Homo sapiens: one gene and its partners. The protein of the gene in region 3 purifies or fractionates together with the protein of the main gene of each other region. This does not show direct contact. Each region holds a gene or a part of one and is shown on either strand. Other genes may lie near its edges. The genes, in order: NLRP1, HERC4 and APAF1.

Region 1 (2,684 bases), on a different chromosome or scaffold from region 3:
GCTCAGACTCTCAGGCCTTGTACATGCGAGCTGCTGTGAACTTCCCCTTTCTCTCCTTTGCAAAGCAATTTTTAAGTCCCTTCATTTTTGTCGTTGTCTGTTTTTTCTGTTAAAATTAATTTGTTATTCCCATGTCCTAAGATTGCTTGATCTTGATTCTAGATTCTGACATCCAAATCCAGAACGTACACCTTTGGTTGGTGCCAGTCTAGAAGGCTAAACAAGAACAAGGAAGTAGATTTCTGCTCAGACAAGGAGGTGCTAAATAGTTCAAGCTATCTAGCAAGGGGTTTGGTTAGTTCACCAGGGATACAATTCAGGCCAACACGGGATTAAAACCAAGTCTGGGATGTTATAGGAGAAATTGCTATCGCTCATTTGGATGTCTTCTATTACTGTATGATCACAGCTTCTGAGCCTCAGTTTCCCCATATGCATAAGGAAGGGATTCACCTAAATAACCTCTAAGGACCCTTCCAGCTCTTACTCCAGATTCTACCAGAATTTGTCTGTGGCTTTTTTCTAAATCAAAGAATCTCAGAAGTGAGTGGGAGCTTGGAGGTGTACCATGTGTGTTAATAACTTAGCACTGTTTCAGATGCATCTTCATCTCTGTTTTCCTCCAGGAGATCTCATGCCTGCAACTACTCTGATCCCTCCAGCCCGCATAGGTCAGTAACAGCTCTCAGAGACCACAGGAGGCGGTGGCAGTTCTGGGGTACTGTCTGGTTCTGGGGGAAGGGAAGAGAGAAAGGAAGGGACTCATCACTGCAAACCTCACAAAGAGTCAGGCCCTGGAGAGCGGTGCATGGTCGCTCCCCATACCCCCTTGTCCTATCCACAGAGACCCTAGAATTCCTTATCTGACAGCCTCCAATGTGCCCAGCAGGAACCCCACTCCCGATCCCCACTCTGGCAGAATGCCAAGCTAGATGCTGCCATGAGGGAGGACACAGGTGCATTTCTGGAGGCAGAAGGAAGCGAGGGATGCAGAGATGAGAGAGGAAAGCACTGAAGGTGGGGATTGGAGGTGGAGGCTGTGGTTGGAGCCCTTCTTTGTTCGTTGCCAGCCGTACCTTCACCTCTGGATGCCCCGCAGTTGCTGCACTTTGTGGACCAGTATCGAGAGCAGCTGATAGCCCGAGTGACATCGGTGGAGGTTGTCTTGGACAAACTGCATGGACAGGTGCTGAGCCAGGAGCAGTACGAGAGGGTGCTGGCTGAGAACACGAGGCCCAGCCAGATGCGGAAGCTGTTCAGCTTGAGCCAGTCCTGGGACCGGAAGTGCAAAGATGGACTCTACCAAGCCCTGAAGGAGACCCATCCTCACCTCATTATGGAACTCTGGGAGAAGGGCAGCAAAAAGGGACTCCTGCCACTCAGCAGCTGAAGTATCAACACCAGCCCTTGACCCTTGAGTCCTGGCTTTGGCTGACCCTTCTTTGGGTCTCAGTTTCTTTCTCTGCAAACAAGTTGCCATCTGGTTTGCCTTCCAGCACTAAAGTAATGGAACTTTGATGATGCCTTTGCTGGGCATTATGTGTCCATGCCAGGGATGCCACAGGGGGCCCCAGTCCAGGTGGCCTAACAGCATCTCAGGGAATGTCCATCTGGAGCTGGCAAGACCCCTGCAGACCTCATAGAGCCTCATCTGGTGGCCACAGCAGCCAAGCCTAGAGCCCTCCGGATCCCATCCAGGCGCAAAGAGGAATAGGAGGGACATGGAACCATTTGCCTCTGGCTGTGTCACAGGGTGAGCCCCAAAATTGGGGTTCAGCGTGGGAGGCCACGTGGATTCTTGGCTTTGTACAGGAAGATCTACAAGAGCAAGCCAACAGAGTAAAGTGGAAGGAAGTTTATTCAGAAAATAAAGGAGTATCACAGCTCTTTTAGAATTTGTCTAGCAGGCTTTCCAGTTTTTACCAGAAAACCCCTATAAATTAAAAATTTTTTACTTAAATTTAAGAATTAAAAAAATACAAAAAAGAAAAAATGAAAATAAAGGAATAAGAAGTTACCTACTCCATAGGCACAGCAGTCCCGACTGGCTGCTGGTTGGCTATTTTTGTGGTTATTTCTTGATCGTGTGCTAAACAAGGAGTGGATTATTCATGAGTTTTCCAGAGAAAGGGGTGGGAATTCCTGGAACTGAAGGTTCTTCCCCCTTTCAGACTACTTAGGGAAACTTCCAGATGCTGCCATGGCGTTCGTAAACTGTCATGGCGCTGGTGGGAATGTCTTTTAGTATGCTAATGTATTAAAATTAGCATATAATGAGCAGCGAGGACAACCGGAGGTCCCTTTCATCACCATCTTGGTTTGATGGGTTTTGGCTTCTTTACCACATCCTGTTTTATACGAGGAGTCTTTGTGAAACCAGTCCTGCCAACCTCCTATCTTATCCCCACCTCAGACATTACATACTCGTCCTTAATCTTAAGAGGTTGTAGAAGGACAGAGATCTATCTTCTGTCACTGCTTCATGCTGAACAGGGGCCATCATCCCTACCTGCTCTGGAGGCATAGAAATGTCTTCGTACCTGATCGAATGACTTATAGGGACTCCATCTTTTCTGCAGTGGCACAGGCTGGAACACTGGACTAATTATTTTTCTCTGAAACTGTTGTAGCCTGGAAGACATAAACTTGAACCGTCCGAACACCTGATGAATATAACAAATATT
Region 2 (3,500 bases), on a different chromosome or scaffold from region 3:
GGTACACAAAGTACTTTGGGTAGCTATAAAGAAGACTGCTGCATGTGATATGTATATTCTTATGAGAACATTTATAAAAAAAGGTTGCAGTGAAAATGGAATAACTTAACCTATAATCATTTTATATATTAAAAATTGTATAAGCCTCTTTCATTACAGAAATATTCAATCTTTATAAACCGTTTTACTAGTTTACTTGATAAGATGTTGGTTTGTTTCAAAATCTTGTTTCATTATATGTCCCCTTTTTATATGCTTGGTAAGAGATGGAAGTCACTAGAGGTGAGAGATGTTAAAAGTAGGAAGCATTTGATCTCGTTAGGAAGAAGATGTGAAATTTCCTTGAAGAAAGTTTCAATAATAAGGTATTAAACATGTTCCTGGGGTTGGTCACCATTATCTCCTATTCCTCTTTCTTTTCCCCTTCCTATCACCCTTTCCCATCCATTTTATGTTGAGAGTTCTTTCATTTATAGAGAGGATTTTTTAAACTAATTCATATTATGACTTTAAAGGGTTACAGTAAGTTTGCTTTATCATTTGATCCTGTAAATAAAAAAGATTTTGAGCTGCTTCCTCTGGTATAGAATATCTGACTATACCAACTAAGGATTAAGGAAAGGATGAAAAGAAAGCTTGAATATTTAATAGTCTAAAAATATTTTAAAAAATTAAAAACCTTCAAATCTTGGTAACCATTTTTATTCTGTTCAAATAAATGCATTTGGTATTCTAAATATTTTTGTAGTGTTCTATACTAACAGCTAGTAAGCCAATTTTTTGGAGGTCTTTGTTAAAACGATAAGTTAATAACTTGGTGATTTTACCATGGGATATTCCATTTTAGAACAAGAACTCAGGGAGAACCATAATAAAAGAACAAAAGTTTTAAATGGTAAAAGTCAAATCCTTGGTTCGTGAGCACATACCATGATCACTTAGTTAAGTGAATTTGTGTAATGCTTCCTTAGCCAGATCATTCCTTATTCTTTGTTTTTTATTTTTTATTTTTGAGACGGAGTTTCGCTCTTGTCGCCCAGGCTGTAGTGCAGTGGTACAGTCTCAGCTCACTGGAACCTCTGCCTTCCAGGTTCAAGTGATTCTCCTGCCTCAGCCTCCTGAGTAGCTGGGATTACAGGCACACACCACCACGCCCTGCTAATTTTGCATTTTTAGTAGAGACAGGATTTCACCATGTTGGCCAGGCTGGTCTTGAACTCCTGACCTCAAGTAATCTGCCCTCATTGGCCTCCCGAAGTGCTGGGATTACAGGCGTGAGCCACTGCGCCCAGCCTGTTCCTTATACTCTTTAAAGGTTTGTTTTTGCTCCTCCCTCTTTACCCTCCCCTCCAGTGAATGTTTTTTAGAAAAACCAATGCTCAGATTTATCAGTATTACTACCGTTCTGTACTGGCTTACTCTAATGGTGTTATGAGTTATACATTATACATTAGTATAAAAACATTCAAAAGGGTACTCTTTATGCTCAGTTTATTAAGTTTTATGCTGTACGGGATACTGTTAGGTGCTATGTTAATTCAGTAGCATAGGAATTATAGAATACCTGTAACTAATAGGTAGAGGTTAGCTTGTTTCAGTCACAGTAGCTTTATTGTAGCATTGCTGTTAAAATGTTAATCTTTTGTTTTCCAGATGGCTATTGATCAGGCCCACAGGCAGAATGTCTCCTCTCTTTTTCTCCCAGTGATTGAATCTGTGAATCCCTGCTTAATTCTAGTGGTGCGTAGAGAAAATATTGTAGGAGATGCAATGGAAGTCCTTAGGAAAACAAAGAACATAGATTACAAGAAGCCACTCAAGGTAATTTGACATTTTCTGTGGTATAATTGGGACTTTTATTCAGAAGCTATGTTTAAAATTTTCCTATTTGTTTTTAGTGAATCTTTTAAACTTAATAAATAAAATTATATTTATTTTAAACTATTAATTGTAGAGTATTAGTAATAAATAACATGTTCTAGGGTCTCCAGAATGTACTTTCATTTCTTTACAGTCTATTTGGTGTTTGCATTGTGCTATTTTAGGTTATATTTGTTGGAGAAGATGCTGTGGATGCAGGAGGGGTGCGCAAAGAATTTTTCTTGCTCATCATGAGGGAATTATTGGATCCTAAATACGGCATGTTTAGGTATTATGAAGATTCCAGGCTCATTTGGTTTTCTGATAAGGTAAAATGTCCAACCATCTAAATTACTTCTGTGTATATACCCATGTATTTATACCTGTATGTATCAAGTTAATTCAGTAAATAAGGAATTACTACTGGATCCCTAACATATAAGATCTGCTTTATTACAATTTGAGAAATTATAAACTTTGGACTTGGAGTTGTCAAAATACATTTGATGCTTACCACACATTTTAAATTAACAAAATAAATTAAGAGATGGTTAGCCAGAAAATAATGTTGACTATTCCTTCTGCTGATTTCAATTTGAGGATTGAATAATAATCACCAGATTAACTTTTCTGTTGGGAAAAATTAATTTATCATTAGGGATCATTGATTTATCTACCTTGTCATTTAGAGCAGGTCAGCAGACTATAGCCCATTAATCTCAAAGAAAAAAAAAGTCACACCCACTCTTTTACCTATTGTCCAAGGCTACTTTCATGCTACAATAGCAGCGGCAGAGTTTAAGTAATTACAACAGTGACCTTATGTCCAGGAAACCCCAAAATATTTGCCATCTGGTTCTTTATAGAAAGTTTGCTGACCCAATTTAGTGATCATAAGTGAAAAGGATGGATCAGTTTAGTAGAACTCCTGACTTGAAAGAAATTTAGATAGAATAGCTATTGGTTGTAAAAACCTCAATGTAATATTTAATCATTCTGCCTGGAGGTTGGCTGTCTTGTGTAATGTTAGCAGCTTAGTGCCTAGACTCTAATTCATCAGGGGTTGCAAAATGGTGTGCTACTCTAATATTTCTTTTTCATTTATTAGCTTGGATACTTCTGTATAGAGAAATTTCCTCACGTTTTCTGATTCCTTAGTAGTGCAATTCATAGGAAAGGATTCTATTTAGTTACCAATTTTTCAAAAGAATGAATTGGTTCATTAGCATAGTCCACTGGTAATAATTCATTTTTTGTGTTTTGCTTTCAAGTATCATTAGGTATTCATAGGTTTAAACATACTTGATGTTTTTCAATTCACTGCAGTTATTGTCTTCATTGATGCTCATATTGTCCCATCTTTGTTCAAGGAGAGCTCTTAAGGTTGGTGCCCAAGTCCTTTTGAAACAACCTATATACTTTTTGGTACCTTCCTTGCTACCTTGTGTACTTACTATGACAGAATGTTCCAGACTTATCTTACACATTTACTGCCTAACAGTACCAACATTACCACCAATATTATGATTACTAAAATGTTTTAAATTGTTTTTCAGTTCTTTTTGTACAAAGAGTATACCCTAATATAGATAGACAGCCAGATAATATAGTTTTGATATAATTTAAAATTGTTATACTCT
Region 3 (3,738 bases):
GTAATGGTCGCTTTTTTTTTTTTTTTTTTGGCACTCAGTAAGTGATGGCTGAACCTTTTATGGTAGGATCTGTAATTTTAATATGTTCTGATTTAGGGTTTGAGGAGAAGGCAGTCTCTAATTTTTTTTTTCCTTATTTGAATCAGCATATTGAGAAGAGTATAGCAAAGAGGAAGAATCATTTTCCTAGATCTAGCCATCTATTTGTTTTAAAAAAAATTTAATTTGGTAGATTTTAAAAGACACTGGTGGGATTATCTTTTTAAAAGGAAGCTTAAGATAAGTGTCATTAGTGATTAATATTTTTTTTTTAAATTAGGTCTCTCTTGATCTTGGATGATGTTTGGGACTCTTGGGTGTTGAAAGCTTTTGACAGTCAGTGTCAGATTCTTCTTACAACCAGAGACAAGAGTGTTACAGATTCAGTAATGGGTAAGGATTATTCGTTTACTTTTTAGTACCTTTATATTTAATTTAATTACATTTAAATATGTGACATACCAAATTACTTACTTTGTCTTGTGATTTTTGTTTGCAGGTCCTAAATATGTAGTCCCTGTGGAGAGTTCCTTAGGAAAGGAAAAAGGACTTGAAATTTTATCCCTTTTTGTTAATATGAAGAAGGCAGATTTGCCAGAACAAGCTCATAGTATTATAAAAGAATGTAAAGGTATGGTTATTTATTTGTTTATGAGGAGATTATAGGGAGTTATATAATTTCCCTTTTGTTAATTGAGCTAATGAATATGGTAATTTAGCACATGAACATCCAAAAACTTTTCTGGGAGATTTAGTATTTTAGGTTCTCTGATATCTTAAATGGATACATGATATTATGGTATTTATTTATTCATTAAAATAATATTTACCATCTACCCACAGTGTGTTAGAGACCACATTAGTGAGAGAAGTGAGACACAGATGTGACCTCTGCTGTTAGAGTTAAAAATAGAGTGAGAATCAGATTTTAAAACTTGTTTTTGCTTGGGATTTTATAAAAATAGTGTTCTAATTTGGTAAGTAAAAACTGGTGTCTTAATTTGCATTTTTTTTTAGCGAAGTTAAACTTTTTACTTGTTTATTGAATACGTTTTAAGAAGTTATCCTTGACTTTAAGAAATTATCCTTGACTCACTTTTCTTTTTTGATATAAGTATTTTTAATTTATTTCTAAATACTCAAAAAATAGAAACTATTAGCTCTTTGTCATATTTTTACAAGTATTATTTCCCAGTAAAACAATTTTTTAACTTAAAATTTATATATAGAATCTCGCTGTGTTGCCCAGGCTGGTCTTGAACTACTTGCCTCAAATGATCCTCCTGCCTTAGCCTCCTAAAGCACTGGGACTACAGGCATGAGTCACCATGTCCAGCCTGTTACCCAGTTTTTTGTGTACCTTTTATTTGTTGTATTCTTTTGACATATAGAAGCTTAAAATTTTAAACAGTCAAATCTATCAACTCTTAAAATTATTTCTTTCATTATTGTTATGCTTGGAAATACCTTATTTTTCTTCTTTTTCTTTTTTTTTCTCTTTTGAGACAAGTCTCACTCTGTCGTCCAGGCTGGAGTGCAGTGGCGTGATCTCGGCTCACTGCAACTTCTGCCTCCCAGGTTCAAGCAGTTCTTCTGCCTCAGCCTCTCGAGTATCTGGGACTACAGGCATGTTCCACCATGCCTAGCTAATTTTTGTATTTTCAGTAGAGACGGGGTTTCGCCATGTTGGTCAGGCTGGTCTCGAACTCCTGACCTCAGGTGATTGCCCGCCTCAGCCTCCCAAAGTGCTGGGATTATAGGCATGAGCTACCATACCTGGCCACCTTATTTTTCATTCTGCCATCAAATAGACACACAGTTTTGTTTGTTTATTTATTTATTTATTTATTTTATTTATTTTTTGAGACGAGTCTCACTCTGTCGCCCAGGCTGGAGTGCAGTGGTGCGACCTCTGCTCACTGCAACCTCTGCTGCCCAGGTTCAAGTGATCCTCCTGCCTCAGCCCCCTAGTAGCTGGGATTACAGGTGCGTGCTACCTCACCCAGCTAATTTTTGTAGTTTTAGTAGAGATGGGGTTTCATCATCTTGGCCAGGGTAGTCTTGAACTCCTGACCTCGTGATCCACCTGCCTCAGCCACCCAAAGTGCTGGGATTACAGGCGTGAGCCACCACACGTGGCCAGTTTTGTTAATTTTTAAAGAAATCTTACACTTAGAAAAAATGCTTAATTTGTAGTTATTACAAAGGGTGATGCATGTCCATTTTGAAAATGTGTGAAACTAAAAAAAAAATAGAAATTATCCATAACCTGATAATTATTAGCATCATGAGAGTATTGCCTCCAGTCTTTTAGAACAAAGATTTAAAAAGTTGAGATTATGTATATGTGGTTTTGGATTTTGCCCTTTTTTTTTTAAAGAGCCAGGGTCTTGCTCTGTCACCCAGGCTGGAGTGCAGTAAGATCACAGCTCACTGCAGGCTTGAATGTCTTGGCTTAAGCAATCCTCCTGCCCCAGCCTCCTGAATAGCTGGGACTGCAGATACCCACCACCACACCTGGGTAATTTTTAAATTTTTTTGTAGGGACAGGGTCTCACTATGTTGCCCAGGCAGGTCTCAAACTTCTGCCCTCAAGCAATCCTCCCACCTCAGCCTCCTGAAGTGCTAGGACTACAGACACATGTCGCCACACCCAGCTGGATCTTACCCTTTTTCTATATCTTGAGCATTTTCCCATGTTGTTAAATATTTTTTTGAAAAAAATTTACCAGTGGCATAATATTGATATATCTTAATTTATTCAACCACTTCTGTATTATTGGACATTGTTTACGTTGTTTAAGATTTTTTCACTATTCTAAGTGTGCTGTGATGAATATCCTTAAACTTAATCATTCTTTTCTTTTTCTTTAAGACAGAGTCTCACACTGTTCCTCAGGCTAGGATGCAGTGGTGCTGTCATGGCTCACCGTAGCCTCAACCTCCTGGGCTGAAGCAATCCTCCCACCTCAGCCTCCTAAGTAGCCGGCACTATAGGCACACACCACCACACCTGGCTGATTTTTCTAATTTTTATTTTTAGTAGAGACAAGGTCTCATTATATTGCTTAGACTGGCGCATATATATATATATATATATATATTTTTTTTTTTTTTTGTAATGACATCTTAGCCAGATTTGATCTATGTTATTTTGACTTAATAAAGATAATCAGGAACTTACTGAATGAAATCTTTCTTATTTCTAATTTTTTTTGGGATAAATATCTAGAAGTGAAGTCAAGAGTGATAAATACTTAAGGCTTTTGATAACATGCAGCAGAAATTGTTTCTTAGTAATGTAAGTAAGTAAGTCGATTCTTATTAGTGACAAAATAGGATGGTATTAGCATAGTGACTTCATTTTTTTTTTAAAGGCTCTCCCCTTGTAGTATCTTTAATTGGTGCACTTTTACGTGATTTTCCCAATCGCTGGGAGTACTACCTCAAACAGCTTCAGAATAAGCAGTTTAAGAGAATAAGGAAATCTTCGTCTTATGATTATGAGGCTCTAGATGAAGCCATGTCTATAAGTGTTGAAATGCTCAGAGAAGACATCAAAGATTATTACACAGATCTTTCCATCCTTCAGAAGGACGTTAAGGTGCCTACAAAGGTAATGGGATCAATGATCCTCATCATTGGGTATTTATTGCATGTAAGCTTTGATATAGTACTGAGCATGTTGTTACAGAGAAC

The links.
Region 1: the proteins of APAF1 (region 3) and NLRP1 purify together in Homo sapiens (affinity purification with western blotting; one study listed by BioGRID). This does not show direct contact.
Region 2: the proteins of APAF1 (region 3) and HERC4 purify together in Homo sapiens (affinity purification with western blotting; one study listed by BioGRID). This does not show direct contact.

Annotation. Positions count from the first base shown.
Region 1 is NC_000017.11:5,513,460-5,516,143, reverse strand, and holds the end of NLRP1 (NACHT, LRR and PYD domains-containing protein 1), read left to right. Parts: intron 1-626; coding exon 627-671; intron 672-1,070; coding exon 1,071-1,390; 3' UTR 1,391-2,026; downstream 2,027-2,684.
Region 2 is NC_000010.11:67,953,284-67,956,783, reverse strand, and holds part of HERC4 (probable E3 ubiquitin-protein ligase HERC4), read left to right. Parts: intron 1-1,653; coding exon 1,654-1,821; intron 1,822-2,045; coding exon 2,046-2,189; intron 2,190-3,500. UniProt on the Homo sapiens protein: Probable E3 ubiquitin-protein ligase involved in either protein trafficking or in the distribution of cellular structures. Required for spermatozoon maturation and fertility, and for the removal of the cytoplasmic droplet of the spermatozoon.
Region 3 is NC_000012.12:98,662,137-98,665,874, forward strand, and holds part of APAF1 (apoptotic protease-activating factor 1), read left to right. Parts: intron 1-319; coding exon 320-432; intron 433-538; coding exon 539-670; intron 671-2,914; coding exon of another isoform or gene 2,915-2,943; exon of another isoform or gene 2,944-3,222; intron 3,223-3,416; coding exon 3,417-3,655; intron 3,656-3,738. UniProt on the Homo sapiens protein: Oligomeric Apaf-1 mediates the cytochrome c-dependent autocatalytic activation of pro-caspase-9 (Apaf-3), leading to the activation of caspase-3 and apoptosis. This activation requires ATP. Isoform 6 is less effective in inducing apoptosis.